Linked DNA regions of Homo sapiens. The main gene of each other region encodes a partner of the protein of the gene in region 3 in a complex. Each region holds a gene or a part of one and is shown on either strand. Other genes may lie near its edges. The genes, in order: TIMM22, TIMM29 and AGK. A codon is read from its position in the direction of its gene.

The links.
Region 1: AGK (region 3) and TIMM22 share a complex: the UniProt entries of both Homo sapiens proteins name them as parts of the TIM22 complex.
Region 2: the proteins of AGK (region 3) and TIMM29 are in contact, whole or in part, in a cryo-EM structure (PDB 7CGP), measured with the Homo sapiens proteins. Residues at the interface, in NP_060708.1 of Homo sapiens: His33, Asn36, Arg39, Arg40, Cys43, Gln44, Gln47, Asn51, Lys82, Pro86, His89, Leu90; in NP_612367.1 of Homo sapiens: Tyr145 (codon at 5,765), Gln146 (codon at 5,768), Cys149 (codon at 5,777), Arg150 (codon at 5,780), Tyr151 (codon at 5,783), Leu152 (codon at 5,786), Gln153 (codon at 5,789), Arg155 (codon at 5,795).

The regions. Positions count from the first base shown.
Region 1 is NC_000017.11:997,145-1,005,990, reverse strand, and holds the end of TIMM22 (mitochondrial import inner membrane translocase subunit Tim22), read right to left. Parts: coding exon 8,611-8,846; intron 7,213-8,610; coding exon 7,016-7,212; intron 6,480-7,015; coding exon 6,407-6,479; intron 4,980-6,406; coding exon 4,903-4,979; 3' UTR 2,320-4,902; downstream 1-2,319. UniProt on the Homo sapiens protein: Essential core component of the TIM22 complex, a complex that mediates the import and insertion of multi-pass transmembrane proteins into the mitochondrial inner membrane. In the TIM22 complex, it constitutes the voltage-activated and signal-gated channel.
Region 2 is NC_000019.10:10,923,588-10,930,754, forward strand, and holds TIMM29 (mitochondrial import inner membrane translocase subunit Tim29), read left to right. Parts: upstream 1-5,223; 5' UTR 5,224-5,235; coding exon 5,236-5,329; intron 5,330-5,426; coding exon 5,427-6,115; 3' UTR 6,116-6,667; downstream 6,668-7,167. Other genes in the region: protein YIPF2, read right to left, coding at 1-90, 246-412, 489-605, 2,099-2,186, 4,043-4,129, 4,212-4,372, 4,793-4,823. UniProt on the Homo sapiens protein: Component of the TIM22 complex, a complex that mediates the import and insertion of multi-pass transmembrane proteins into the mitochondrial inner membrane.
Region 3 is NC_000007.14:141,542,437-141,554,409, forward strand, and holds the start of AGK (acylglycerol kinase, mitochondrial isoform 1 precursor), read left to right. Parts: upstream 1-8,973; 5' UTR 8,974-8,998; exon of another isoform or gene 8,999-9,182; intron 9,183-9,247; exon of another isoform or gene 9,248-11,973. UniProt on the Homo sapiens protein: Lipid kinase that can phosphorylate both monoacylglycerol and diacylglycerol to form lysophosphatidic acid (LPA) and phosphatidic acid (PA), respectively. Does not phosphorylate sphingosine. Phosphorylates ceramide.

The DNA.
Region 1 (8,846 bases), on a different chromosome or scaffold from region 3:
CCCAAACCCAGCACTCCAGACTCGAGGGAAGCCAGCTTCCAAGAACTGGAATGCGTACGTCTTTTGTGCCACCTTGTACAAAGCCGGCTGCCCAGCCCCAGCCTCACCACCGCATCCCACCTCCTGCCCTCCATACCTCTAGTTGTGTCTGATGCTCCGTGCTGTTCGGGAATTGTTTTATGTACACTTGTCAGGCAGAAAAGGTAGTGACCGGCCCGGCGTGGGCACACAGACAGCCCGCTTTGTTCTTTCATTTCCTCCAGCACTTTCTTTCCGCCTGAGTCCAGCCCAAGGCCTTTTATTTTGCGCTGTGTAACTGCTGCCAGCTTCTCTCTTGGCCCTGCTCCCAGATGGCGGTCTCCTGGCAGCCTCCCCTCAGTCTTCCTCCACCCGCTCTTCCTTCCCAGCCTGCCTGCATGCATGTGCACCCTTGGTCTTCGCTCCATCGCCTTGAAAGCTCTGAAGAGGCCCTGGGTTGCCGCGGCAGCAGTGGTCTGTTTGATGCTGCCGTTTGCCGCTGCCGGCCCCTCCTCAGACTCCGCCTTTGGGAGCACACCTGCTTTGCCTTGCTGCCTGTGCAAATGTTGGACAAGCAGACACACTCACACTCGTCCCCAGCTTAGCACAGAGCTGGAGCGCCCATTTCTGGAATTTTCCGTTTGGGAATCTCCACTTCTGGGGTTTACCTGTTCGGCCTCCTGTCTATCAGTGAGGCATCTCTGACTGTTTCTTCTACTGCTTTTCAGTTCCCTTCCCTGCTGTTCTATTTCCTTTGAGTGTAAAGACTCACAGGTGACCTGCTATCGAGATAGCCAGAGGGTCAGGAGAGAATGGGGGAGGAGGCGGTCAGGCTGCTGAGGAAACACCACAGGCTGAACGGGGGAGGAATGCACATGCCACGCTGGGTGTCCCGGGTCGCGGGGAGGCAGCTCAGCTCTTAGGAGCAAGTTGTGGGGGCTTTTCAAGAGGGGCCAGGCTTCCTGGAGGGTGACTGATGTGGCCGAAGCAGGTGTCCAGGCAGGTAGGCTGCAGCCAGGAGCTCCCTGGCACCGCAGGACCTCGTGGTACTCTTGCCTTAGATTTTACACACACTCCACAGCCAAGCACTGCCACGGTCCTCCAGGACCTGGGAAGCAAAGGCACAGGCCCACGGTGGCCAGCCATTGTGGTGCCGCCCCAGCTTCTGGATACAGCCTTTTGGGTAAACACTGGGAACTCCAGAAGTTGTGGGGAGAGTGGGGAATCAGACAGCCGCCTCTAGGGGCTGGGTTCTGCTGGGGCCTCCTTGTTGGTGCTGTAGGCACCCGCCAGGGAGCAGGGACCCGACTTGCAGACGCATTGCCCGGTACTAGGAAGGAGTGAGGTGTGTTCCCACCGTACACTTCCCACACGAGCTGCGGCTGCCAGCCTCGGGCCATCAGCCTAGGAGAGCAGATGCAGCTCCAGGGGCTCGACTTATAGCCAGTTACAGCTCCCCGGCTCTTCTGTGTGGCAGAGCGTCGTTTCCGGGCCCTCAGGGCTGGGGAGCTCAGTTCCCATTGCTTGTGCTCAGGGCTGAGTCTTAAAGAAGGGTTTGCCGGCCCTAACGCTGCAGCGCGTGCGCGGTGAGAGGCCCTTTTTGAGCCTGTTTACTCCTGTGGCCTTGGGCAGAACAGTAAATACTCTGTGCACGGAGGAAAGACATGCCCAAGAGGAAGGAAGTACTGACCATCGGCTGCCTGTGAGCAGCTTAGCAAGGAGCCCTTGCTCCCTGGGAAAGGCGGTGAACTTGAGTCTAAAGATGCAGTGCCTGGCCCTTCCTAAGGTCCCTGCCTGGCATCCGAGTGTCGGTGTGTGGCACAGAAGGCTCCTGCTTGCTTCCAAAGTGATGGACAGGAAGGGGCAGAGTGAGTCACGGCCCAGACTGGGCACCTTCGCGTCTCAGCCTCAGGGAGCCCCACAGCCCCAAGCTCGCTGAGGCAACGTGAGAACAGGCTATGGGAAGGCTGCAAAGGCTGAGAAATGCAAAGGCTCATATTTATAAATCCCACCCCCAGAGTGGGGAGGGTCAGGTGCCAGACCTGGACTAAACTGCACCAAGGAAACACCCAGCAGGGTCTCCTGTGAGCCGGGGACCATGCAGCCCGAAACCTCCAGTCACTGCGCCCGGCAGGAGTCAGGAGCCAGGGACTGTGCAGCCTGGAACCTCCAGTCACTGTGCCCAGCAGGGTGGGCTGTGCCCAGCAGGAGTCAGGCTAAGAAACGCCAGGTCTGCCTGTTCTTGCTGGGCAATGGCTGATGGCTGCCAGTTTCTGCTGATACACAGGTAGGATGGGACCCTTCATGAATATCTGACTTTAATAAGTTGGTAAGGATATATTTTTTTGTCTATGTTCTGTTTCAACTTATGTAGATTATTATAAATTGATGTAAACCACGTGAGAGGAAAATGTTAATAAAAAATGCAAAGCCCCATCATTTGCACAAAACTCAGCCCTGTGGTGTGGATGTTTGTGTTCGCGGTGGTCCAGGGAAGCCACCAATGTAAATATTTAACTCTTCCAGCTGCATCCAGATGTGAGTTTCCAGGAATCTGTTTACCTAGTTCACTCCCCTTGAGCCTCCCTGTGGCCCACGGGGGCTGGGGCAGAGCTGCGGGGAGGTGGGCTGGAGCCCTCTCCTTGCTCTTCACAAAGGCCTCCGGATCAGCCAGCATCCAGGCTGCTTCTGGCTCACCTTTGCCATGTGCTGCTACAGTACAAATGTCCCACCTGGCCATCGGTGTGCCTTGAAAGTGGCATGAAGTTGTCCACTGAACAGGAAGCGTCTTCTTTTATGTAAACGCTTCTCTACGCTTTCCTTCAAAGTGGCATATCTTTGAGGCAGCCTTTTGGTCTAATCTGCTTGTCAGAGAAGCTGGGTCTCCGAGGGCCCACCCTCCCTTTGAGAGAGTCAGTGGCGTGAATATTGGCTCCCACCAGCCGAAGCAACTGGACACTGAGTTTATTCTGAAGATCAGGAACAGATGTCTCTGAAAATTGCTGTTTGGTTTATGAGCTCATACTGGCTCCCCAGCCATCGAAAACAGGAAACTATTCATCTCTCGAGTGAATAGGCAGCGTGGACAATGCCTCGCTTACTGAACCGATGGGTACTGACAGCCCTGGCGCTCATCTTTTCCAAGGCTGTTGTGAGGGCAGCATCTCTTGTATTTGGTCCCACGTGCTAGACTGAAAGATGGAAGATCCCAGGCATCCTAGGACTTTGACAGGTACCAGGTGGGAATGTCTGCCCTTGCTTCAGAGTGCTTGTAGGTGTCCTATATTTAGGGACAGCAGAGGAAACAATTTGTTCTGAGCTCTAGGGAACGCTCCAACTGGCCTAGCAGTGATGAAGCCTCCTAGCTGTGAGACTGGGAGGGGCGTTATATAGAATTCACTGTAAAAGGACATGAGCCCTGAGCAGGAACTCACATTCATTCCAAGAAAATGGCAAACATGACCCAAGGAAGGTGTTACCAGCTGGGTTTGACATCATCACTCATGTACAAACACTCGGGCCTCCAGGCCATGTACACTGAGTGTGAACGCTGGTTAAGAGTGTGTGGGCCAGAAGACAGGGCAGATGAGGAAGAAGGCAAAAAAGGAAAGGATAGAGGAATTACCGTATTATAGGAAAAAGGAGACTCATCACCACTGGCTGAAGGTGCCCAGCACTGTGTGGCCCCCACCAAGCGACCTGCCTGTGCCCCACCCAAGAGCAAAGGCCTGACTCCAGCAGTGTCATCCCCCCACAGAGCACCAGGGTAAAGCAGCACCAGTGCTGAAGCCCAACTGTAGACGGATTTTTTTTTTTTTTTTTTTAATATCCATGGCACACAACTAGGCCAAGAAAAATACCACAAGGTCAAGTCGAAAACACGACATGTTAAAACACTTCCTTGACCCTGGAGAACGAGGATGGTGGTGAACAGCCCCTCAGCGACGTCTGATCTTGGCCAGTAGCTGCTGTGACCGAGTCACCAAGATGACCACAGCAGGACCCTTCACATGTGGCCTCAAGCTCGGCCAGGTCCAGCAGTCACGTCGTGAAGGCAGTGTGTGCCTCTCGGCCGGCACAGGAGGGGCCCATCGAGTTCATGGATGGGATTTCACTGCATCCCAGGAAAAGGCTGGGCTGGGCTTCTTGAGGCAGGCCCTGGCAGATGTAATGAGCTTGGTGAGGATGACACAGTCCTCTAACAACCCTGCCTCAGCGCCCCATCCCCCGCTTCCCTGGGAGCTTTCTCATTCTTTCCCTTCAGATGTTATCTTTGGGCCACCCGGCACTATTTTTGGAATAGGGAATTTGAAAATAAAATACAAATAAACCAACCTTTTGAACTGTAAGGTGTGTGGCGGTGGGGGAGGGGAGTGTATTTTTAAAAAAAAAACAAGGATGACAGAACACAAAACAAGTGAGATAATTGGTTGGACGGCATCAGTCCGCCTTGCCCTGCCCTGGTATTCGAGACGGATAGTTGCATGGAGTTCCAAGGTAGAACAGCTTCCTGAGTGCCTGCAGAGACACTGTCACCTCTGTGCCCACAACACCAAACAACCTAGAGGGCCAGCTGTGGTCAGGCCTGAAGCTTTGTGGAGCTGAATTCCTATATGTCAACATCCTGTCTCCCGATCTGCTGTGAGAGAATCTGGCACGGGACGTCCTCTGTGAAGGCTGGCTGGAGTCCAGGAGCAGCAAAGTGTGGCTACCCCAAAGGCTGGAGGCAGAGAAGCCAGGCAGCTCCCTCAGAATACCAACGACATGAGGGAAAATGAATGTCTTCAGGCCCTGAAGCAAGGCCCTGGTGTGGTACAGAAACTGTCCTCCAGAGAGCAGCCCGGATCCGGGGCTGGCATCATCCTTCCCTGCAGGCAATTACTCTCACCGGAGGTAATAATCAATCGCAGCAGAGAAAGCAGCAAAACCTCCACAACCAATGGCCCCAGCCTTTAAGCCAGCTGTCAAACAAACAGAAAGAACATGACCTGTGGTGACAGCTGCTGGGTCACGAGGCACTCACGGAAAGTTGGCACACCCTCAGTGTCATGAAATGAGCTTAAGCACTGTAAGTCATTCAAACGATCATAGCTCTGGAAGACATCAATGAAGCAGTGTATATGATCTAATCCAGTGCGCTTTATCTAACTACATTTGTTTAGCTTTTCTCCTTCAAAGGGTATTTCTAGTCTTAGGGAAATAGCCCCTCGCAGGCAGGAAACTGGTTGAGAGAAGCAGCCCTCGGAATCAAATGAAAGCATATGGCCTTGACCCTGATTTGTTTATGGAATACATTCCTGGGAAGGTGATCAAAGCAGTACTGGAGACAGCAGAGCTTCTCAAAGAGGCCCTGGTGAAGCTGAACAATGGGACGACCGGCGGAGAAGTCAGTCCGTCATCATAAATGGTGCTTGAGGAGCAAAACCAGGTTTCATGACAGCAAATCATCCTGTCTCTCAGAAGATGAGAAAACTGGCTTTTTGCTCTGGGTAAGTTAGGGCATGACAGATGGAAAGTGGCCCAGTGATAAAACACTGCTGCTTCTAGGAAAGTCAAGTCACCAAGGCCCTCCACCACGCTCTGAATGGACATGCCAACGGGGAGAAGAGGCAGCAAATTGGTTTTCTTTTTTTTTTTTTTTTTGCAGCTGATAATCTAATATTTCTAGAATATCTGTACTTAGCATTCAATGGGTAGAAATCAGAATCCCCAAGGGCAGAAAGATATTACCATTATAATTTATATCTAAAATTAAAAGACAATTGTCTAGAATTACTGAGAAAAATGTTGGCCACACGTGGTGGCTCATGCCTGTAATCCCAGCACTTTGGGAGGCTGAGGCAGGCAGATCACGAGGTCAGGAGTTCGAGACCAGGTGAAATTGATCTCTACTAAAAAAATAAAAATTAGCTGAGCATGGTGGCGGGTGCCTGTAATCCCAGCTACCTGGGAAGCTGAGGCAGGGGAATCGCTTGAACCCAGGAGGTGGAGGTTGCAGTGAGCTGACATCGTGCCACTGCACTCCAGCCTGGGCGACAGAGTGAGATTCGGTCTCTTTAAAAAAAAAAAAGTTGTTACAACGGACGGGGGTGCTACTTGCATCTCGTGGGTAGAGGCCAGGGATACTGCTCAACGTCTTAGAATGCACAAAACAGACCCAATCCCGACAAAGATTCGTCTGGTCGAAATGTCAGTAGTGCCAACGATGGGAAACCCTCATCTAGATCCTACAAGTTTCCAAAACCGAGTTACCACAGAAACAAACATGATTTATTTGTCAGAGGGAAGAAGATCAAGTGTCCCTGGAACACTCGTGTGTTTGGAAATGACAACCTCAGCACGTTGTCCAAGGCCACAAAGAAAAAGCATTCGAGAGCCGTTTACTAACCTCTGAAACCAATAGCTCCTCCCGTGATGCAGCCACTGATGACACTGTTCTTCCAGTCTGATGTTCCCCGGTACTGTGGGCAGGGAAGTACACGTTAGAGCCAAAGAAACAAGCCAAGGCAGACCATTAAGGAGGAATACACAGGGTTGCTCGTTAGCTCATTCAGTCCCTACCCAAAGGAAACCTAATCTTTCTTGAAAATATAGTTCCTAAGTATACAGCGTGTATATATATATATATATATATATATATATATATATAGTATGCGTTCATAGATGCTTCCTGCAGGTGGCACCAGAGTGCTGAAACCAAGCCCAGCATTTGGAATGTAATCAAAATTTCTTCAAGGGGCTCTCCAATAAGTCTCGTTTAAAATCATTAGCTAACTTCTAGCCTACAAAAAGTAAAAAATAATGCAAGCCCATACTGTAAACACACACAAAGTCTGCCACAGGGACTATTTTATGGAAGTTCAACCTAGAATGTATCTGATGCTTCTGATTTGCTTTCTAGTAACAACTTTCAAATGACTTTTAAAGAGCAATTTCTCTTTAAAAGTAATGAAATGGTGGCCCCAGCAAGGATTTCTTAGAAGGCAGAGACACTTACAGATTCTATCAAACACTCAGTACAAGAAAACATGGCTCCCACAATGGCGAAATTTTTGGCATAGGACATTCCTCTCTGCCCCATGTCTTTCAGCACTTCTTTTGCAGTCGGTGTACGGTAAGGATCCTTAGGGTCAAAGCCCACGTTGGTATCGATGCCAGCGGTAAACACCCCAAATGCACCTCCTAAGACAAATCCTAGAAGCAAACACAGAGATGAAGGTGTCTTTGGCATGTTTTCTGCATTACTCTATTGGGATCATCCTGGAAGGGACCATGCTTTTGGATGACCACCGGTGCAGAGGACACCCCCCTCTTGCCACTCAAACTCTCCACTTGCCTGGAGACTTGCAATCCAGGGTCTATGTTACTGACATCATCTTCTCCGTCTCTAAGATTTCTTCCTCCTGTCATTCCCTAACATTTCTCAAGATTCCATCTTTAACCCTCTATTCTCTCTACATTCTCTCATATGTAAACCAGCCACCCTCAACTTCAGCTATCAACTTTGCAAATCACTCTCTTGGCCACTGTGACATTCACAGTAATGCTTTACTGAGCACATGCCAGTATGCCACAGCCTCATTCATTCTTCACAATAATCCAGTGAGACAGATGCTATTAGCCTCTCCTTTCTATAAACTGAGGCTCAGAGAGGTTAAGCAACTTCTCCCAAGGCCACACAGCTACCTAATGGCAAATCCCACACTGCTGCCACATCTGTCCTTCCTGAGCCGGCTGGACATGTCCAGATGGATGCCCTCTCATGACCTCATGGTCAATATGAGTTTAATAAAATCATGGGCACCTCCCCTTCAACTTAAGGGAAAAACAGAAGGACAAGTGCAGACTTCGTCTCTCCTTGCTCGGGGCTGTCTAGTCACAATGGTCTTTCAGTTTTTCAAACCTCAAACAACTGCTGCCCTAGAGTCGTCTGCATGTGCATTTCCATATGTCTGCATCCTTCCTCTGCAGTGTTCCTGCTCAACATTCTTCTCCACATAGTATAATACAGGCCCCATGAAGACCAGGCTCTTGTCTCTTTCACCTGGCACGTGATATTGCTTAGGAACAATTTGTTGAAAGAATTATTTAAGAGAATGAATTTAAGGGAATGAACGGATGAATGAAGTCACCCACGTAATAACTTTTTGTTGTTGTTTTTGAGACGGAGTCTCGCTCTGTCGCCCAGGCTGGAGAGCAGTGGCACATCTCGGCTCACTGCAAGCTCCGCCTCCTGGGTTCAAGCGATTCTCCTGCCTCAACCTCCCGAATAGCTGGGACTACAGGCGCCCACCACCACGTCCAGCTAATTTTTTGTATTTTTAGTAGAGACGGGGTTTCACCGTGTTAGCCAGGATGTCATGTAATAACTTTCAGGCCCCAACCACAGCACCGATTCTCTAACCCAATTTTCATCAGGAAAGCCGGCCTGAGGGGGCAGGAGAGGTGACGCCCGATTCACGAACGAGGCGAGGGTGTGGTCAAGGTCAAGGCCCGCAGTCCCTCGCCTCCCAGGCGCGTGGTCTTCTCGGCAGAGATCCCCACTGCCGTCCAGGCCCTCAGCCTCCCAAGGGTCCCATCGCCCGGCCTCACCTCCCACGCAGGCCAGCGCAGCCTTGAAAGCGCAGCTTTCCATCGCCTTCTCGATCATCTTCTGCTCCTCACTCTTGGCTGGACTTGGGATCCCGCCCAGGCTCCCAGGCTCCAGGAGCCGGGGCTGACGCTTGTCACCCACCAGGTACTGCAGGAGCAGGCTGTACTGCAGCGGAGCTTCGGCGGAACCCGCTGTCTCAGGGGCCGAGCCTCCGGCATTGGGGGCGGCCGCCGCC
Region 2 (7,167 bases), on a different chromosome or scaffold from region 3:
GAGGGTGAATACCAGCCCGGCGGCTGACAGGCCCAGGGCCAGCGCCCCAAAGAGCCACTGCAGCCAAGGCACAGGGATGAGCCACAGGACCTGGGAGCAACACGGCGGCAGGTGACCATGCCAGTCCCCCCAGCCACCACCCACTCTGCACCAGGCCACCCTCACCACCATGGGAATGAGGCGGCAGGTGACCATGCCAGTGTCCCCACACAGCCACCACCCACTCCGCGCCAGGCCACACTCACCACCATGGGGATGAAGACAAAGAGGGAGTAGCCGTAGATGCACACAGTCTCCAGGAAGGTGTAGGGCCCCATGCGCTCCTGGACACCCTTGCGCCACCGCAGGAAGCCCCACAGGGCCAGGGGCACCAGCCACGCATAGCAGTAGATGCTGATGCCTGCCACGGTCACTGGGGGGGGCAAGGTGAGCAGTCACCCCCTGTACCCCAGGGCCCTGCCAGGCATTGGGCCTGCCCGTCTGCTTACCCTTGTGGAACTGGGGGCTGTAGTGGATGGAGGGGTCCCTCCTCTGGGCCAGCACCAGCGTCAGGTTGCCAGTGACGGCCAGGACAAAGGCCAACGTGGCACAGATCCAGAAGGGGCCTGGGGGTAGGGGGCACAGTCAGGGTCCCGGGCCCTGCACTCCCAGGACAAGCAGACATGTATCCTGACTGAGCTGTGCTGAGACCCCAGCCTCTTCCTAAGCACCTTGCCTGACTCACCAGGACACCGGGGGCCTCCTGGTGGCTGAGCCCAGTGCTGGCTGTCAGTTCATCCCCCTCCCCGAAACACTCAGGACTGCACACCCTTGGCCTGTGTCTCACCTCATTGGTGCCAATTCCTCAACCCCTGTCACCTCCTCTTTGACTCTCTGACCCCTTCAGCCATGGGGAGCAGCCAGGCCCAGTTCTTGGCCCCTTCCATGTCTGCGTTCACCCATAGTATGACCTCCTTCAAGCCCAGGGCCTTATGCCTCCTCTAGAGCCCAGGGCTCTGCCCTGAGCACTGCAGGCTCCAGTTCAAGCTCCCGGGTGGGCATCTCCGGCTTCATCCACACCCTTGCCCTCTGCCCTCACTGCCAAGCTGGTCCCGTGGATACGTGGCAACTCTATCCATCCCGTTAGTCCAGGCAGAAATCCCTAGAGCCTGCCTCCGCTCCTAACCTCCCACTCCCCCCACCCCCACCTATCTAGCCACAAAGCCAGTCTCTTCTACTTCCCCAGCACGTTCCAGAATCCAGTGCCACTCTCCACATCCACAGTCCCCACCATGTGGCCGCCTCCACCCCAGCCTCCTGGCTTCCGCCCTCGCCACTCATGATGGCGAGAGGGACCCCGAAAACACTTAAAGATCCATTCTCGGCCAGATAACAGTGACTCACACCTGTAATTCCAGCACTTAGGAGGCCGAGGCGGGTGGATCACCTGAGGTCAGGAGTTTGAGACCAGCCTGGCTAACACGGTGAAACTCCGTCCCTAATAAAAATATAAAAATCAGCCGGGCATGGTGGCACGTGCCTGTAATCCCAGCCACTCAGGAGGCTGAAGCAGGAGAATCGCTTGAATGCGGGAGGGGAAGATTGCAGTGAGCTGAGATCACATCACTGCACTCCAGCCTGGGTGACAGAGTGAGACTCTGTCTCAAAAAAAAAAAAAAAAGATCTCTTCTTGCCACAGCATGGGAGGCTTGTGTGATCTGTCCCCTCGCCTGTGACCTCCCTGCAGCTCACTCGCTCCAGTGGTAATGCCGCCCTGCAGTTCATGCAAGTTCCTGCCATGAAGCTTACGTCGTTTCTGGAAGCCTCTTTTCCTAGGTCTCCCCCACCCCTCCTGTTGCCAACAAGGCTCATTCCCTCACCCTCCTCAGGGAGGCCTGCCCTGCTGCACCCTGCAGAACTGCAGGGCCACTCCTCCTGTCTGCTCTGCTGCTCTCTACCCGCCACCCTCTGCAGTCCTTCATGTCTCTGTCTCCCTGAACAGCAGGTAAGTCACACTGTCTGAGTGACTGATTTGTCCGCAGCTATACACTGGCATCTGCAACTCAGGCCACACTTGTTGAGTGATCCATCAAGGAACCAAATGCACAACCTCACTCACCATACAGATCCGGCCGATTCCGCAGATGGTGCCGCACAAAGTTGTGGCCAGGCCGGGGCAGCAGTGAGCCTTTGATCCGGTCCAGGACCTGGGGGCAAGGCCAAGGTCAAGGATGGAAGTCTGCCAGGAGCTTCTCCCTTGTCCTGAGAGGCTCCTTCCCTGCTGACCTCCACCCTTCTCTTTCCATGCCCCACCTGAAAGAACTCAGCCTTTCCCTCTCTTTTTTTTTTTTTTTTTTTTTGAGACAGAGTCTTGCTCTGTCGGCCAGGCTGGATGGAGTAGTGGCATGATCTCGGCTCACTGCAACCTCTGCCTCCCGAGCTCAAGCAATTCTCCTACCTCAGCCACCCGAGTAGCTGGGATTACAGGCGTGTGCCACCACGCCTGGCTAATAGTTGTATTTTTAATAGAGACGGGATTTCACCATGTTGGCCAGGCTGGTCTCGAACTCCTGACCTCAGGTAATCCACCCACCTCGGCCTCCCAAAGTACTGGGATTACAGGCGTGAGCCACCGTTCCCAGCCCCCTCTTTTTTTTCCCTCTTTTTTTTTTTGTTTTGAGACGGAGTCTCGCTCTGTCACCCAGGCTGGAGTGCAGTGGTGCCATCTCGGCTCACTGCAAGCTCCGCCTCCTGGGTTCACACCATTCTCCTGCCTCAGCCTCCCAAAGAGCAGGGACTACAGGCGCCCACCACCACCCCCGGCTAATTTTTTGTATTTTTAGTAGAGATGGGGTTTCACCGTGTTAGCCAGGATGGTCTCGATCTCCTGACCTCATGATCCTCCCACCTTGGCCTCCCAAAGTGCTGGGATTACAGGCGTGAGCCACCGCACCCGGCCTCAGCACCCCCTTTTTCTTTTTGAGACAGAGTCTCACTCTGTTCAGGCTGGAGTGCAGTGGCACGATCTTGGCTCACTACCACCTCCGCCTCCCAGGTTCAAGTGATTCTCGAGCCTCAGACTCCTGAGTAGCTGGGACTACAGGTGTGTGCCACCATGCCTGGCTAATTTTTGTATTTTTAGTAGAGATGGGGTTTCACCGCGTTGGCCAGGCTGGTCTCCAACTCCTGACCTCAAGTGATCCACCGCCTCGGCATCCCAAAGTGCTAGGATTACAGGCGCCGACCACTGCACTTGGCTAATTTTTCTATTTTATTTTATTTTTTATTTAATTTTATTTTATTTATCTTATTTTATTTTTGAGACAGAGTCTCATTCTTTTTGCCCAGGCTGGAGTGCACTGGCACGATCTTGGCTCACTGCAACCTCCGCCTGGCGGATTCAAGCGATTCTCCTGCCTCAGCCTCCAGAGTAGCTGGGATTACAGGCGCCCACCACAAAGCCCGGCTAATTTTGTTGTATTTTTAGTAGAGACGGGGTTTCACCATGTTTGGCCAGGCTGGTCTCAAACTCCTGACCTCAGGTGATCCACCCACCCAGGCCTCTCAAAGTGCTGGGATTACAGGCATGAGCCACCCCGCACCCGGCAGTTTTTGTATTTTTGGTAGAGACGGGGTTTCCCCATGTTAGCCAGGCTGGTCTTGAACTCCTCAGGTTATCTGCCCACCTCGGCCCCCTTAAGTGCTGGGATTACAGGCAGGAGCCACTGCGCCCAGTCCATCTTTGGTCTTCTGCATATGCTGTTCCCTGTGCCTGGAACATATACTCCTGCTTCCCTACCCTATTCCCCAGGGAAGCCTTCTGTCTCCTTTAGGTCTCAGCCAATTCCTCACCTCCCCCAGGAGGCCTTTCTCTAACCCACCAGATTGTGTGTGTCCCCTGTGTTCCCATAGTCCCGATCCATAACCAGTCCCACCATAACCCTTTGAGAGCACCACAGTTCGTTCACCAGCACCCACCATCACCAGCACCCTGCCCAGGGGAAGAGTGGCTGAACCCTGAGCATAACTCTGAGCCCCATCCCACCTGCCTCCCCAGCCTGACCTGTGAGGTGTCCACGTCAAAGAAGCTCTGATAGTAGCTGAAGGTCCAGAATCCCGGCTGCTGCTGCTGCTGCTGCTCCTGCAGGAGCTGCACATTGCGGGCATTCAGTGCCTGCCCGGAGAGCCTGGGTCAGCTGGGGGCTGCAAGGAGGCAGGACACAGGGACTCACCGCGGCCTTGTCACTCTCCTCCTCCACCTCATCCTCGGCTCCATAGCTGCCACCTGAGCCCACGGCCACAGCCACGTGCCCTTGTGGGGTCAGCTGATCGCTTCTGCTGGTGGTGGCTGCATCTGGGGTGTCAGCCAGAAGATTAGTGGCCTCCTCGAATTCTGTGGAGGAGGTATATGGGACACACGCACGTTTGAGGGGTGGAAAGAACTCGACTGGGCCCAAGCTAAACCGATGCTCATCTGGGGGCGGAGGCTCTGCTGAGCCATTGATCTCCCCCAAGGTGGGGCCCAACTTCCTCAGTTTGGAGGCATCCGGAGGACATCTGTTCCCTTCCTCCTAAAGTGGAACTGCAACTTAGGGTTGACGCTGGGATGGGGTCAGGGTCTGGGGACGAGAGGCTCGGGTTTGAGGTCTGAGTTCAGGGCGGGGGCGGGGTTCGAGTCAGAGATGGGTCTCACTCCTGGGTCAGGGTTCACAGCCGCCTAGGCTTCGGGGTAGAGAAATTGGAAGCCGTATCGGGGGGAGGTTCTGGCCCGGGGCGGGAGTGGGAGATCCGGCCACGTCGGGGCCGCACTCACCATGGAAGGTCAGCTCGTCGGCCGATGCCATGGTCGTTCAGGGGCGTCTCCGCATCCCTCGCTGAGGACAGAGACCGGTCAGGCACACTTCCCCCCCGCCCCCGAGCCGGTCCCTCGGCCCCCAGCCCTACCTGGCGACCAACTGCACCCACGGAGGCTTGAACTCGTCGTCCCGTCCCCACAGGTGCGCTCCGCCCCCCCTCACCTGAGGCCACCTGGGCCGGCGTGGCTGGGGCTCTCTGCGCCTGCGCGTCTCGCCTACCCGTCAGACTCCAACCGACTCAGACCTGACAGCAACATCCGGCGCCTGTCCTCTTTCTATCCTCTCCCGTTGGGAAGCCACTTCCGGTAAAGTTGGCGCTTGCGCAGAAGAGACTCCCGGGCTCTTAACGTCGGGTATCAGGAGTTTCTTCCCGGAGCAAGGACCCCCAAGACGGAAGAGGATGGCCGCGGCGGCTCTGAGGAGATTTTGGTCCCGGCGCCGCGCAGAGGCGGGCGACGCGGTAGTGGCGAAGCCGGGAGTGTGGGCGCGGCTGGGTGAGTAGCGGCGGAAGGCGGCAGGGTGGGTGGCCGCCGCGACAGGGTGGGTGGCCGCCGCGGCCGGATCACTCTTACCGCGCTCCTCTCCCCTCAGGGTCCTGGGCCCGCGCGCTGCTCCGGGACTACGCCGAGGCCTGCAGGGACGCTTCGGCGGAGGCTAGGGCCCGGCCGGGGCGCGCCGCTGTGTATGTGGGTCTGCTGGGCGGCGCGGCGGCCTGCTTCACGCTGGCGCCCAGCGAGGGTGCCTTCGAGGAGGCGCTGCTGGAGGCGTCGGGGACCCTCCTGCTGCTGGCGCCGGCCACCCGCAACCGCGAGTCCGAAGCCTTCGTGCAGAGGCTGCTCTGGCTGCGGGGCCGTGGCCGCCTGCGCTACGTCAACCTGGGGCTCTGCTCGCTGGTGTACGAGGCGCCCTTCGACGCCCAGGCCAGCCTCTACCAGGCGCGTTGCCGCTACCTGCAGCCCCGCTGGACCGACTTCCCCGGCCGGGTCCTGGACGTGGGCTTCGTGGGTCGCTGGTGGGTGCTGGGGGCCTGGATGCGCGACTGCGACATCAACGACGACGAATTCCTGCACCTGCCGGCGCATTTGCGGGTGGTCGGGCCCCAGCAGCTGCATTCCGAGACCAACGAGCGGCTCTTCGATGAGAAGTACAAGCCTGTCGTGCTCACCGACGATCAGGTGGACCAGGCGCTGTGGGAGGAGCAGGTCTTGCAGAAGGAGAAGAAGGACAGGCTCGCCCTGAGCCAGGCCCACTCGCTGGTGCAGGCGGAGGCCCCGAGATGAAACCCTGAGGCCCCCGAGTCCTGGCAAACTGCTTGCCTGGGGTGGTGCAGTTCTGAGTGTGCCTCACCTGCAGAACAGCTGAGACAGATGATGTGCAAAGTGTTTTCTCACTGGATTTGCACAAGTTTGGGGAGCCTTTCTGCCCCCCGTCTTTGTTCTTTATTAGCTGAAGCTAATTCAGAGCCACCTGGGTCCGGGAGTTGGGGACAGCAGAACGACTTGACACATGTTCATCACTGGCAGAGCTGGTCATGAGCCTTTTATATAAGCCTTTTTCATCGGGCCTCAGAGGCCCTCCTTAAGGAGGTACCACATTGGTCAGCTGACTTGCAAACTCTTCTAAGGCCACTTAGATTTTCTTTTTCAAGTTTGGGTTGTGGCCTGGCATGGTGATGTCTGTAATCCCAGCAGTTTGCAAACTGAGGCAAGAGAATCGCTTGAGGCCAGGAGTTTGAGGCCAGCTAGAGTGACATAGCAAGACTCCGATGCTACAAAAAAGAATAATAATAGTAATTAACTAAATAAAATTTGAGCTGAAATGTTTTTATTCTATGACCTATTCTCTCTCGTTTTTTTTTTTTTTTTTTTTGAGACAGGGTCTTGCTCTGTTTTGCCTGCTGGAGTGCAGTGGTGCAATCTCGGCTCACTGCAACCTCTGCCTCCCAGGTTCAAGTGATTCTCCTGCCTCAGCCTCCTCAGTAGCTGGGATTACAGGCCTGTGCCAACATGCCTGGCAAATTGTTGTATTTTTAATAGAGATGGGGTTTCACCATATTGGCCAGGCTGGTCTTGAACTCCTGACCTCAGGTGATCCACCTGCCTCGCATTTCCAAAGTGCTGGGATTATAGGAGTGAACCACCACACCTGGCCTTTCATTTTGATAAGTAACATTTTTGCCATTCCCAGCTCTTTGGAAGGCTGAGGTAGGAGGATTGCTTGAGATCAGGAGTTCAAGACCAGTTTAGGTAAAATAGTGAGAGCTTTCTCAAAAACTAAAATATTTGGAAGGGTAAAGCAGGCAAATCATTTGAGCTTAGGAGTTCAACACCAG
Region 3 (11,973 bases):
CCTACCAACTGAGCTTATAGTTAAGCCTGCTAAAGTTGGGAGGGAAGCAAGTCACCAGAGGCCCTAAGCAAAAGATTTTTTCTCATCAGGGACAATTCACCACAATTTTCAAGGGGAAATAAAGTTGCTGCTGTGCAATGAGGGCAGGAAGATGAATGCATGAAACCCAGAAGAACACACTGGACACCTCTTTATATTGCCATATCCAGTGGGAGTGTTAATGAAAGACGACTACATTTCCAACCAGGCAGGACCCAGAACTCAATCCTCCAGGAATGAAGATCAGATCGCCCTTACCCTCTGCAAAAACAAACCAAAACAAAAAGCCTAGCTTGAGACCAGGTGCAGTGGCTCACACCTGTAATCCCAGCACTTTGGGAGGCCAAGACGGGGGAATCACTTGAGGGAGGCCGAGGAGGCAGATCACTTGAGGCCAGGAGTTCGAGACTGGTCTGGCCAACATGGTGAAACCCTGTCTCTACTAAACAAACAAACAAGCAAACAAACCAAAAAGCCTAGCCAGCTGAGGGCTGGCCTGAGGTAAGGAGGTATGAAATGAATTACAGAGGGGCAAGTCAGAATCACAGCCACAGCCCAGCAGCAAGTGGCAGAACCAAGAACGGCAACCTCCACTCGTGTTTCCCTTTTGTAAGGTCACATGCATTTATATGTTTCCATTTAATTTCCTTTGCTTCCCTGTAAAATTTGCCTTTAATGTTCTGCAGTTTCAGTCTGATGTATCTGCTGGGTTTGTTTGTTTGTTTTGAGACAGAGTCTTGCTCTGTCACCCAGGCTGGAGTGCAGAGGCCTGATCTCAGCTTACTGCAACCTCTGCCTCCCAGGTTCAAGGGATTCTCCTGCCTCAGCCTCCTGAGTATTTGGGATCACAGGCACCTGCCACCACGCCCAGCTAATTTTTGTATTTTTTTAATAGTGATGGGGTTTCACCATGTTTGGCCAGGCTGGTCTCGAACTCCTGATCTTGAGTGATCTGCCTGCCTCAGCTTTCCAAAGTGCTGGGATTACAGGCATGAGCCACTGCACCCGGCCTGCTGTTATATTTTGAATACTGCCTCTTCCCATCTCTCTACTCTCTCATTCTGGAGCTCCTATTAGACATCTATTGGATTTCATTCTGTCTTCCAGAACCTTAACTCTTATTTATATTTTGCCTCTCTTTTTTCTCTTCTTGCTGTATTTGGTTAATATCCTCACATCTGTCTTCTAGTTCAATAATTTTCTCATCAGCTGTATTTAATCTCCTCTTTAACTTATCACTGAATTTTTAATTTTAGTAACTATGCATTTTAAAAATTTCTGGGTGTTATACTGAGTTCTTTTAAAAATTTGCTATTTTGTTTTTCTTTGTGCCTTGTATTCTTCTTAAGATTAAAATTTTTTTCTTTAGTAATGATTTTGATCATTTTGAACTATTTTATTTTAAACTATAATTCAATTATTTTAAGTTTGTGGGGCTCTAATTCTCCTATGGGTTTTTTTTCCCTCACTTACTCAAAGTAAATCATTTTTTCATGTATTTTGTGATTTTTTAAAATTGTGACATCTTTAGAAAGGTTTTTTAAAAAATAGGAAAATCCTTTTTGGCCTGGTATGGGAGCATTCCCCCAGAGGCCTTTGTGTTTGCTTCTGTCAGACACTCAAAGCTATTATCACTATGAGACTAATTTTTATATTAACTTTCCCAGTTTTGAGACTTCTGTACCACTGAGATAACGTGTATTCAAATCAGAAAACCCACCCTAGGCACAGATTTGGTGTTATCACTTATTTGGGGACTCTTTTTCCACCTAGAGCTCAGGCTGGGACACACCACTTCCTTGTCATCTTCCTATATTGGTGAGTAGATTTTTAAAAATTTTTTTCCCTAGTGATTGTAGTCAGAGGTTTTACTTCCAGCTCCCTGACTTTGGAGGACCCAAGTTCTCATGTCTTGTGCTGAGACATAGCTTCTAGATTGTTGAGCCGGAACCCTCAAGCCAGGCAATGACATCATCGGCTCATATATTTCTATTTTAGCTTTCAGGTCCCGCTTATTTTCTGGCCCCATGGGATGAAGCTTCCTTTACGGCAAGTTCAGTTATGCACTATGAATCCTCTTGTTATGTTTTAACCCGAATTTCTAGGTATTGGAATAGGTAGACTTTTCAGGTCTACTACCTTGCCAGAACCAAAATTCCAAAAAAGTCTTATAATGATGGTGTGTACCTGTTGTTCTCCAATGCCCTATACTTAGAGCAATTCGTAGTTTAAAAAATAAGAAAATTCAGAGTTTTTATTATATGGTAACTTATTAGGATGACACTACCATAATTACTATTTTGTTTGAAATTTGGTTTCCTAAAAAAAAAAAAAAAAAAAAAAAAAAAAATTAAAAAAAAAACTGCTGGTCTCTATGCTCCTGGAAATGAAAAAATGAATTACCAAAGTAAAAAACTTAACATTCATTCCAGGTAGAATTTCCCTTTTCTTCTTCCAGGGTACTTAGAATTTGGGTTACTCCTGAAAACCAAAATTTGCAAAACAATGTTGGAGACCTGGCTCAATACAATCAATGTGGGCCCTACCTTTGTTCCTACTCACTGCCATATTAAACAGGCAGCTGGGAAGTGCCGACCAGGGCCTAGCTGGAGTCAGGAGGAATAAGTGGCAAAGGATGACAAGAAGACACATTAACAAGAGAAGTCACATTCAGGAAAATGCAGGGCCCATATAGATCATGGGTGACAATGGGCAGCATAGAGGGTTCTTATAAAACCTCATGCAATAATGTGAAAACATATTCTCTCTCCTAGGAACCTGTTGGTTTCTTGAAAGGCCTCATTTACATGTTTCCAATCTGGTAGCAATAGATTCAGTGGATATTAAAGGTCATAATAAGGAAAGGATTTTAAGCATAAATACCACAAGAACACCATTTCATATTTTTTTCCTTAGGGGAAACAAAGTAGTCTAAAGAAGTATCTACATGCAAAAAATGAGCAAATAAACCAAGATAAGTCTTAAAAGAATTTGTACATAATTTTCCATGATCAAAGTACTCACCCTGGGAAGCATCTGTTCCCACAAGCAGGTTTCATTGGCGATGCTACATAGTAAGGTTACTAATGGTCATAAGGACACTATATCTTTTTTTGAACTTTTAACTCTATTTTAGTGTTAATGAATCTACAGAAAAAGAGCATAGCACTGGTCCAAGGTCCAGGGAAATGACTGGAGGATGATTTTAGGAAAAACCAAAGGTTAAGCATCCCATTGATGTCAACTTGCTTTCTTCTGTCATCGATTTTCACCCTTAAAACCTTGCCATAGGCCAGTGTTGTGGCTCACACCTGTAATCCCAGCACTTTGGGAGGCTGGGGCAGATGAATCACAAGGTCGGGAGTTCGAGAGCAGCCTGGCCAATATGGTGAAACCAGTCTCTACTAAAATACAAAAATTAGCTGGACTTGGTGGCCCATGCCTGTAGTCCCAGCTGCTCAGGAGGCTGAGGCAGGAGAATCACTTGAACCCGGGAGGTGGAGGTTGCAGTGAGCAGAGATCATGCCACTGCACTCCAGGCTGGGCGACAGAGCAAGACTCCATAAACAACAACAACAACAACAAAAATCACACAAAAAAACCTTGCCATCATTTTTTTTTTTCTTTTAAATCACTGTCCTCGTTGTGTTTCCTATCCACCAATATAGCCTATGGCTTGCAGTTTATCAAGTTGGGGCTCATGGCTCCAGGGAACAGAAAACCCTGACTCCCCCCTAAACAATAAGGGAATTTATTATTTCACATAATAGGATGTCCCAGAGTTTGGGCAAACTCCAGACATAGTACAACCATTTGGTTCCGTGATGTCATTGAGGACCTGGGCTCTTTATCTTTTTCCTCTGACATTCTCTGTGAGTTGGCTTTGCCCTAGGGCTGGCTCCCTTCATGGATGAAGAATGACTATAGCAGTTTCAGGCATTACATACACATATATGATCCTATAGGAGAAAAGTGCGACCATCTCTTTCTCTTTTTTAAAAAACAGCTTTATGGAGATATAATTCACATACCATACAATTTTCCTACTTAAACTTTATGTTTCACTGAGTTTTAGTAGATTCATAGTTGTCCTACAACCACCACCATCAATTTTAGAACATTTTCATCTCCCTAAAAATAAATCCCATACCCATTAGCAATCATTTCCCACTTCTCCCCAACCTCCCCCCAACTGCAGTCCTAGGCAACCTCTAATCCATGTTCCATTTTCATGCATCTGCCACTTCTGGTGGTTTCATGTAAGTGGAGTCATACACTATGTGGTCTTTTGTGACTGGCCTATTTCGCCTAGCCTAATTTTTTTTTTTTTTTTTTTTTTTTTTTGAGATGGAATCTCACTCTGTCACCCAGGCTGGAGTGCAGTGGCGTGACCTTGGCTTACTGCAGCCTCCGCCTCCCAGGTTCTGGTGATTCTCCTGCCTCAGCCTCCAGGTGGCTGGGATTACAGGCATGCACCCCTGTGCCCAGCTAATTTTTGTATTTTCAGTAGAAATGGGGTTTCACCATGTTGGCTAGGCTGGCCTTAAACTCCTGACCTCAGGTGATACTCCTGCCTTGGCCTCCCAAAGTGCTGGGATTACAGGTGTGAGCCACTGCACCCGGCCCACCTAGCCTAATGTTTTTAATGTTGATTGCCATTTCTTTCTTGAATTCTCCCTTTTAAGAAGGAAACCTTTCCTAGAGATCTCTCAGCAGACTTCCTTTTAAGACTGTTCTAAATCGAGTGACATGATCTATTCCTAATCTAATCATTGGAGATGGAAGAGGAATGACTGTGATTACCTAAAGTGACTGTAAACTAACCCTTGGCAAAGGGGATGGGGTTATCTAGTCACCTGCTTTGTAGTTACAGGCAAACAGGGGCTGGGAAGGTGAAGAGTGGATGTCTGAACAAAATTTAATTCCTGTTAGGAAAGAAGAAAGGGGCAATGGATGTTAGGTAAGGAGATAAAATGTACAATACACTTTAATGATACAACATAACAGTTACGAAAGAAGCTAAGAATGGTGAAGGGGGCTCCACTTACCTTTGGTTTATTTATTCCACCAGTCTTCCTTCCTTCCTTTTTGTTTTACACCTGTAAGCTTCAGACTCTAGAGTGGTGGGTTCACCAACCACTCCAAATCCTACCCCTGCAATGGATTTTATTATACCACCAGGTTGAGTGAAGCTGACCAACTTCAGGGGCTTCAGGGAGGTGGTAAAGGCAGGGAGGGGATAACTGAGAGGTGAGAGTCACACAGTGCCCACTTTCTAGGTAATCAATTGACAGCAATTCAGCATGCCATCATTGCTGTTCTAGCTGTATGTAGTTGATGTACACAACTGAGAGGGAGGTTGCAAGTATGAGAATTTTTTATACACATATAAAAAATTATATATCTCTATATATCTTGTCAATGAGCAAAAAATTGAAATGTGAGACTACCTTAAACCTTGATTCTTTCTCTCGTCTTATGTTCTTGAACACTCTTCCACAGTAGGGGGCAATCTGACTGGAGAGTGAAATACTCTTTCTTGTTGAATGACCATGGCACTCCTGTCTTAGTTTCTTCTCACCCTATTTCTAGGCCAAGGTCATTTCCCTGTAACATCCTTAATAACGGATTCTGAGCCCAGACCAGGCACGGTGGCTCATGCCTGTAATCCCAGCACTTTGGGAGGCTGAGACAGGCGGATCACCTGAGGTCAGGAATTCAACACCAGCCTGGCCAACATGGTGAAACCCCATCTCTACTAAAAATACAAAAATTAGCCAGGCGTGGTGGTAGGCTCCTGTAATCCCAGCTACTTGGGAGGCTGAGGCAGGAGAATTGGTTGAACCCAGGAGGTGGAGGTTGCAGTGAGCTGAGATCACGCCATTGCATTCAGGCCTGGGTGACAAGAGCGAAACTCTGTCTCAAAAAACAGACAAACAAAACCAAACAGATTCTGAGCCAAGAGAATGTTACCTCAGGATTGGTTCTGGACTAATGAGAAGCTACTGGGATGGTCAGCCACCATATTTGGAAAATGCTAGAGATCTTGAGTTGTAAGACTCTTCCATTCCTGGGAGCTACTAGATGTCAGTCAGTACATTCGTCCTCAAGGGAACATAAATTCATTTTGTAAGCAACTGGGGCCCATACTTTCAATGTGTCACTTATTTCAATATGCATAAAGTATAGTATTATATGTGGCAATGTGTTAGTTGTGAAAAGAGACACAAGTCCCTATCCTTGACAGTGCAAAATGTTCTTCTCTGACGATCCCAGGCAAGAGCTGAAGACCCAGGCAAATTCCAAATAGCTCCTTGGGAACCTCGCTCAGCTGTTAGTGATAGTGAACAAAGAACATGGAAAAGGAAGTACATAAGCCAAGCCCTTCTCTCTGGCTGTGTGCATTTGGATCTGTCTTTGGTCCTCTCTGTGGCATGAATGTGCCATTGAGCCTCAGGGACTGTGCCCGAGGCACTGTTCCAGGCCTCTAAGGGCCAGAGTGTCAGACCTGAGTCTTCTCTGGCATCGTAGATCCTTAACACGGATCAGCAAAGGAAGCTCTCCAGGACTCTCTTTGACTATGAGAGGGAACTTGTGTTAATCCTTGACTAAGAGTTTTGTTTTGTTTTGTTTTGTTTTTTGAGAGGTAGTTTTGCTCTTCTTGCCCAGGCTAGAGCGCAATGGCGCGATATCGGCTCACTGTAACCTCCGCCTCCCAGGTTCAAGCAATTCTCTTGTCTCAGCCTCCCATGTAGCTGGGATTACAGACACCTGCCACCACGCTTGGCTAATTTTTGTACTTTTAGTAGAGACAGTTTCACCATATTGGCCAGGCTGGTCTCAAACTCCTGACCTTAGGCAATCCACCCATCTTGGCCTCCCAAAGTGCTGGGATTACAGGCTTGAGCCACTGCGCCCAGCCTAACAGAAGTTCTTGGGGCTGCCTAAGTCAGAGTGTCAGGTTTCTGTTGGGCTGCAGGAACCCATTCAGGGCTGGCTAGAGCTTGTGCCTGATTATTCTGGAATCTGAATGCATCCTAGTAAAATGGTATTTGGAAGAGAGTAGAATTGGTATAGGTCTCCAAAACTCCAACCTACACATCTGCCTGCAGGTGTGTATTCAGATTCCCTTAATCTCCTATATTTCCATCCTTCTTCATCCTTCATCAAAGCTGACCTTTTCTTATTTGGGGAACCACTTTCATGCTGAAGCCCTAAAGCATACGCTGAGTCTGACCCTTGGAACATCAAAATCAAGTCTCAGATTTTTCTAGCCTGCAGGTGAGCAGTTCAGAAGCTTATTTCCAAACACAAACGCTTTAGATAGTTGGAAAAGAGGAACTGAAAATAATGGTCTTCCATACCCTATGACAACATTTTAGAGCTAGAAGGGTTTTTTTTTAATAGTAATGTTCTCAGTCCCCTAGTTTACAGATGGAGACTCAGGAGAGAGGGCTAGAAATTTCTTGCTACTAAACAGTGTGGCCCAATGGATTGGTGCACCCTGGCATAAGGAATATGTTTACTGCACCATAGCCTCATTGAAGGTCCCCGCCCCGGCCTTTTTTTTTTGAAGCATTCACCTAGGGAGACATAGGTAGGATGCATGTCTACACGTAGGAAATGTGCAGACTAGATAGCAAGCTCCATGGGGCAGGAACCATGAAGGGCCTTGTACCTGAGCATACCCCCAGTGCCTGATGCAGGGCCTAGTGCACACTCAAATGTTGGTTGACTGGCCGGGTGCGATGGCTCATGCCTATAATCGTAGCACTTTGGGAGGCCAAGGCGGGCAGATCGCTTGAGGTCAGGAGTTCGAGACCAGCCTGGCCAACGTGACAAAACCCCCGTCTTTACTAAAAATACAAAAAAATTTAGCTGGGCCTGGTGGCACACACCTGTAATCCCAGTTACTCGGGAGGCTGAGGCACAAGAATTGCTTGAACCCGGGAAGCAGAGGCTGCAGTGAGCTGAGATTGCACCACTGCACTAGCGCCTGAGCCACAGAGTGAGACCCTGTCTAAAAAAAAAAAAAAGTTGGCAGACTGAATGCTGGAAAGAAGAAGGACCTGGCTTTGTCCCCACACCAATCTGGTGGGCGAGTACAGAATGTAAACTGTCTGGAGGTTGGCATTGGCCTAGCTTCTCCGTTGCTCTCTTGTTCTCTAGAATCCAATCAAGCACCTGTGGCCAGAGAGCTGTGTGAAATGGAAACCAGTCCCACCAGCCCCTGATTGCACCCCCGCAATGTCTTCTCGCCCTGTTTAATGTCATGTCCAAACTCCTGGCCGCCGTGGCCTGTCTCCACCTCTCCAGCTTCCTCGCTTGGCCTGTCTCCTTAGCTCTCTCTGTCTCACCCACACTGGCCTGCAACTCGCCAGAGTGCCCCAGGCTTTTCAGCTTTTGCACGGGCCCTTCCCTCTCCAGGCTCTCTCCCCTGGATCTTTGCTTCAGCTGCTCCTTCTTGACATCCAGGTCTCAGACCAATGGCCCCTTACTCAGAAGGCCTAGCGCAGGCCGCCTAATTTCACACAGTTCTCCCCCTTCCCGCACTGCCTTCCATCACCTCGTTTCATTTTCTTCGTGGCACGGAGCACCATCTCCAATGGCCTTGTTCATTTAGTTAATTTATTTTCCGACTTAGTTCCAGGTGCTAAAACAGTGTTACCTTGGCAGGCTTCCCATCAAATATTGTTGCGCAAAGGATGGATGGATGAAAGGAAGAGTGAGCCAATAAACGAGGGAACGCCGGGAAAGGCAGCCTCAAGCCGGTGGGCCCTGCCACCCCCACCGTCCCTGAGCATCCGAGCCGGTTCCCGCCCCCGGCCCGAACTGGCCCGCGCGCGCTCGCAGCCCCGCGGCGGAACCCGAGGGCGGCGGCAGCGGTTTCCCTTGAACGAGCCGGGGAATCTGGAGGGAGCACACAGGAAAGGCAGAGCCGCGAGCTGGACCAGCCGTGGTGAGTGCAGCGGCGCCCAGGCGGGGAGCGCAGTGCGGGTCGCTGGGACTGAGCGCGCGAGCGGGGTGGGAGTCGGGATGGGGGCCCGGGGCGCTGGGCGGAGCCTCTGGAGTCGCGCTGGGCCGAGAGCCGCGGGGACCCAAGCATCAGGGGTCGTGGGTGCAGGCGGCGGCGCGGCTTGAGGGTAGGGGGTGCGGGCCTGGCCGGCGCGGCAGGGGAGGGCCTCGCGCGGATCCCGTGGTCACGGCGGGAGTCAGCTGTCCTGGGTTCGAGTCCCAGAGCTGTCGCTAACTTGTGGACCCCCCTCACTTCGTCCCTTGGGCTTCAGCATAGCCCTTTGCAAAATGGGGCCAATAGTATCAGATCCATTGATGGGTTGGTTGGTTCATTCATTCTGGCGCTTTACTAGGTTCTGGTGCTGCAGATGGATAGACGAACTTGCCCATGAGGGGTTCACTATCTAGTAAGAAAAACATTTCCACCTGGATACTCCACAGGCGTGTCAAATTCAGTATCTCCTAAACCGCACTACTTTTCTCCACAAACCTACCACTCAAATCTAAATGACTGAAATCACTATTCAACCAGTCACCCAAGCACAAAAACCTGGCTTGGTTCCTCCTCTCTCACTTACTACAGTCAATGGACCACCAACTGCTGCCAATTTCTACTTTCTAAAGCTTTCCAAATCCATCCTTTATCTTGGTTTGTTCTTTTAGGAGCCTACAGATTATGGCAATAACTTCCTAATGGTTCTCTTTAGCTTTAATTTTAGCTTCTTCCAGTTCATTTTTCATTCTGCTATAAAGTGGTCTTTTAACAGTTCAAATATGATTATATCACTCACCTGCTTAAAGCCCATTAAAGGTTTTTCATTGTCTTCAAAATAATAGCCAAAGTCCTTAGTGTGGGTTCAAGGTCTTTTCTAATCCCACCTGGTCTTCAATCCTTTATCTCTAAACCACTGTTTCTCAAAGTCTGGTATAGTGGTGACCTCCATTGCAACCAACATGGGAGTACTTGTTAACAAGTGAAGATGACAGCTTAATTCCAGAACAAATGAGACTCTTGCGGGAAGGGGCAGTTCCCAGGATTCTGTGTTTTTAACAAGTTCTGCACTAAAGGTTGAGAACCCCTGTTCTAGACACTCCAATTTTTACTCCGCTGTTGATGAGATTCAGGACACACTGCCGCAAAATATGACTCGTTGGCATTAGAGGAAACAACTGAAGCAGGAAAGTCACTTTGTGTCTTCCCACTTTTCTCCCCTGAAGCAGGCCATAAAAGAATTGTTTGACCTTCTTCTGTATAAGACCCTTCAGTGAGAGGTGCTCATCCTGTAAGTATAGGATCGAGGAAAGGAATGCCCTTATCTTTGAAGACACAGGTACACAGAGAAGAATCAGAACAAATAGGCCTTGCTAAATTCTCCCCAGCGTATTACTGTTAGATCATACCCCCTTTTTCCAGTCTCAGCCATGAACCTAATTCTCCCCTCAACTATCTACGTATGTTTCTCTCAACACACTTTACTGTCTTTTATGCCTTTGTACACTCTCAGTTTGGGCTACTGTAAAAAAAAAATAGCAAAAACTGGGTGGCTTAAACAACAGAAATTTAATTCTCACAGTTCCGGAGGCTGGAAGTCCAAAGTTAAGGTGCCAGCATGGTTGAGTGCATGGTGATAGCTCTCTTCCTCGGTTTGTAGAGATCTGTCTTCTTGCTGTATCCTCACAATGCAGAGAGACCATCTCTGTAGTGTCTAGTCTCATAAGGACACTAATCCCTTTCATGGGAGCCACTCTTATGACCCAATTATCTCCCGAAGGCTCTATCTCCTAATACCATCTCAATGGGGATAGGGCTTCCACATCACCATTTTTGGGGAACACAGCATTCAGACAATAGCATCCACAAAACTCCTTCGTTACTTTAGTGATTTCCTCCTCATTATTCAAGGCTCAGGGAAGACTTCATTGACTGTGCACCACCCCCTCAGCCCTAGACCAGGTTAGGTTCATTCTTGCAGACTCTCACAAAGCCTTGTGCTGACTCCTCGACATTTATCCCACTGTACTGCAATCATAATTGTATAATTGTGTTAGCATTGTGGGTTTGACAGTTGTGAGCACTTGAGAGAACGCATGAGACCCATTCTTCTCTGCCCTCACCCCCAGCACAGAGCCTACCATATAGGTGTTTATTAAAGGGCTCTTGAATGAAGGAGTGATTTAGGGCCAGATGGAGAGGAGTTCAAGAATTAGTTGGGCCTTTGGAATCATGTGTCAGCCTGACGGTGTATGGGATTCACAGGAAGATGGTCTCCCTGGCACTGGCTTCACTGCTGCTTTTGATAAGGATGTTTCTACCCTTGAGAGGAATTTTAACCAATGGGATTTAAAGGGAGTCATAAAAGAACTGGACTTTTAAGTGGAAACAGTTTTTTTTTTCTTGGTCTATATACCTCACTAACAGATAGTCATAAAAAAATTTTGCTTAAATTTTTGTTTATCTAGAAAATAAGTTCATTTTCAAAAACTTAGAAAGTACATTGCAATTTTAAAAATAAACATCACCCACCATTCCACAACCTAGAGGGATCTACTTTAAAATTTCGTTTTTGAGCCAGGTGCAGTGGCTCACGTCTGTAATCCCAGCAATTTGGATGGCCAAGGCGGGAGGATTGCTTGAGGCCAGGAGTTTGAGACCAGCCTGGGCAACATAGTGAGACCTTGTCTCTAACAAAAAAAGGAAAGAAAAAAATTAGCCAAGTGTAGTGGTATGTGCCTGTGGTCCCAGCTACTTGGGAGGCTGAGGCAGGAGATTTGTTTGGGCCCAGAAGTTATAGTGAGCTATGATTGTGCCACTGGACTCCATCCTAGGTGACAGAGTGAGACCCTGTCTAAAAAAAAAAAAAAAAAAATTGTTTTTGTTTAATTGTATTGGTTTTCTTTTTAAATTTATACTCATGTTTG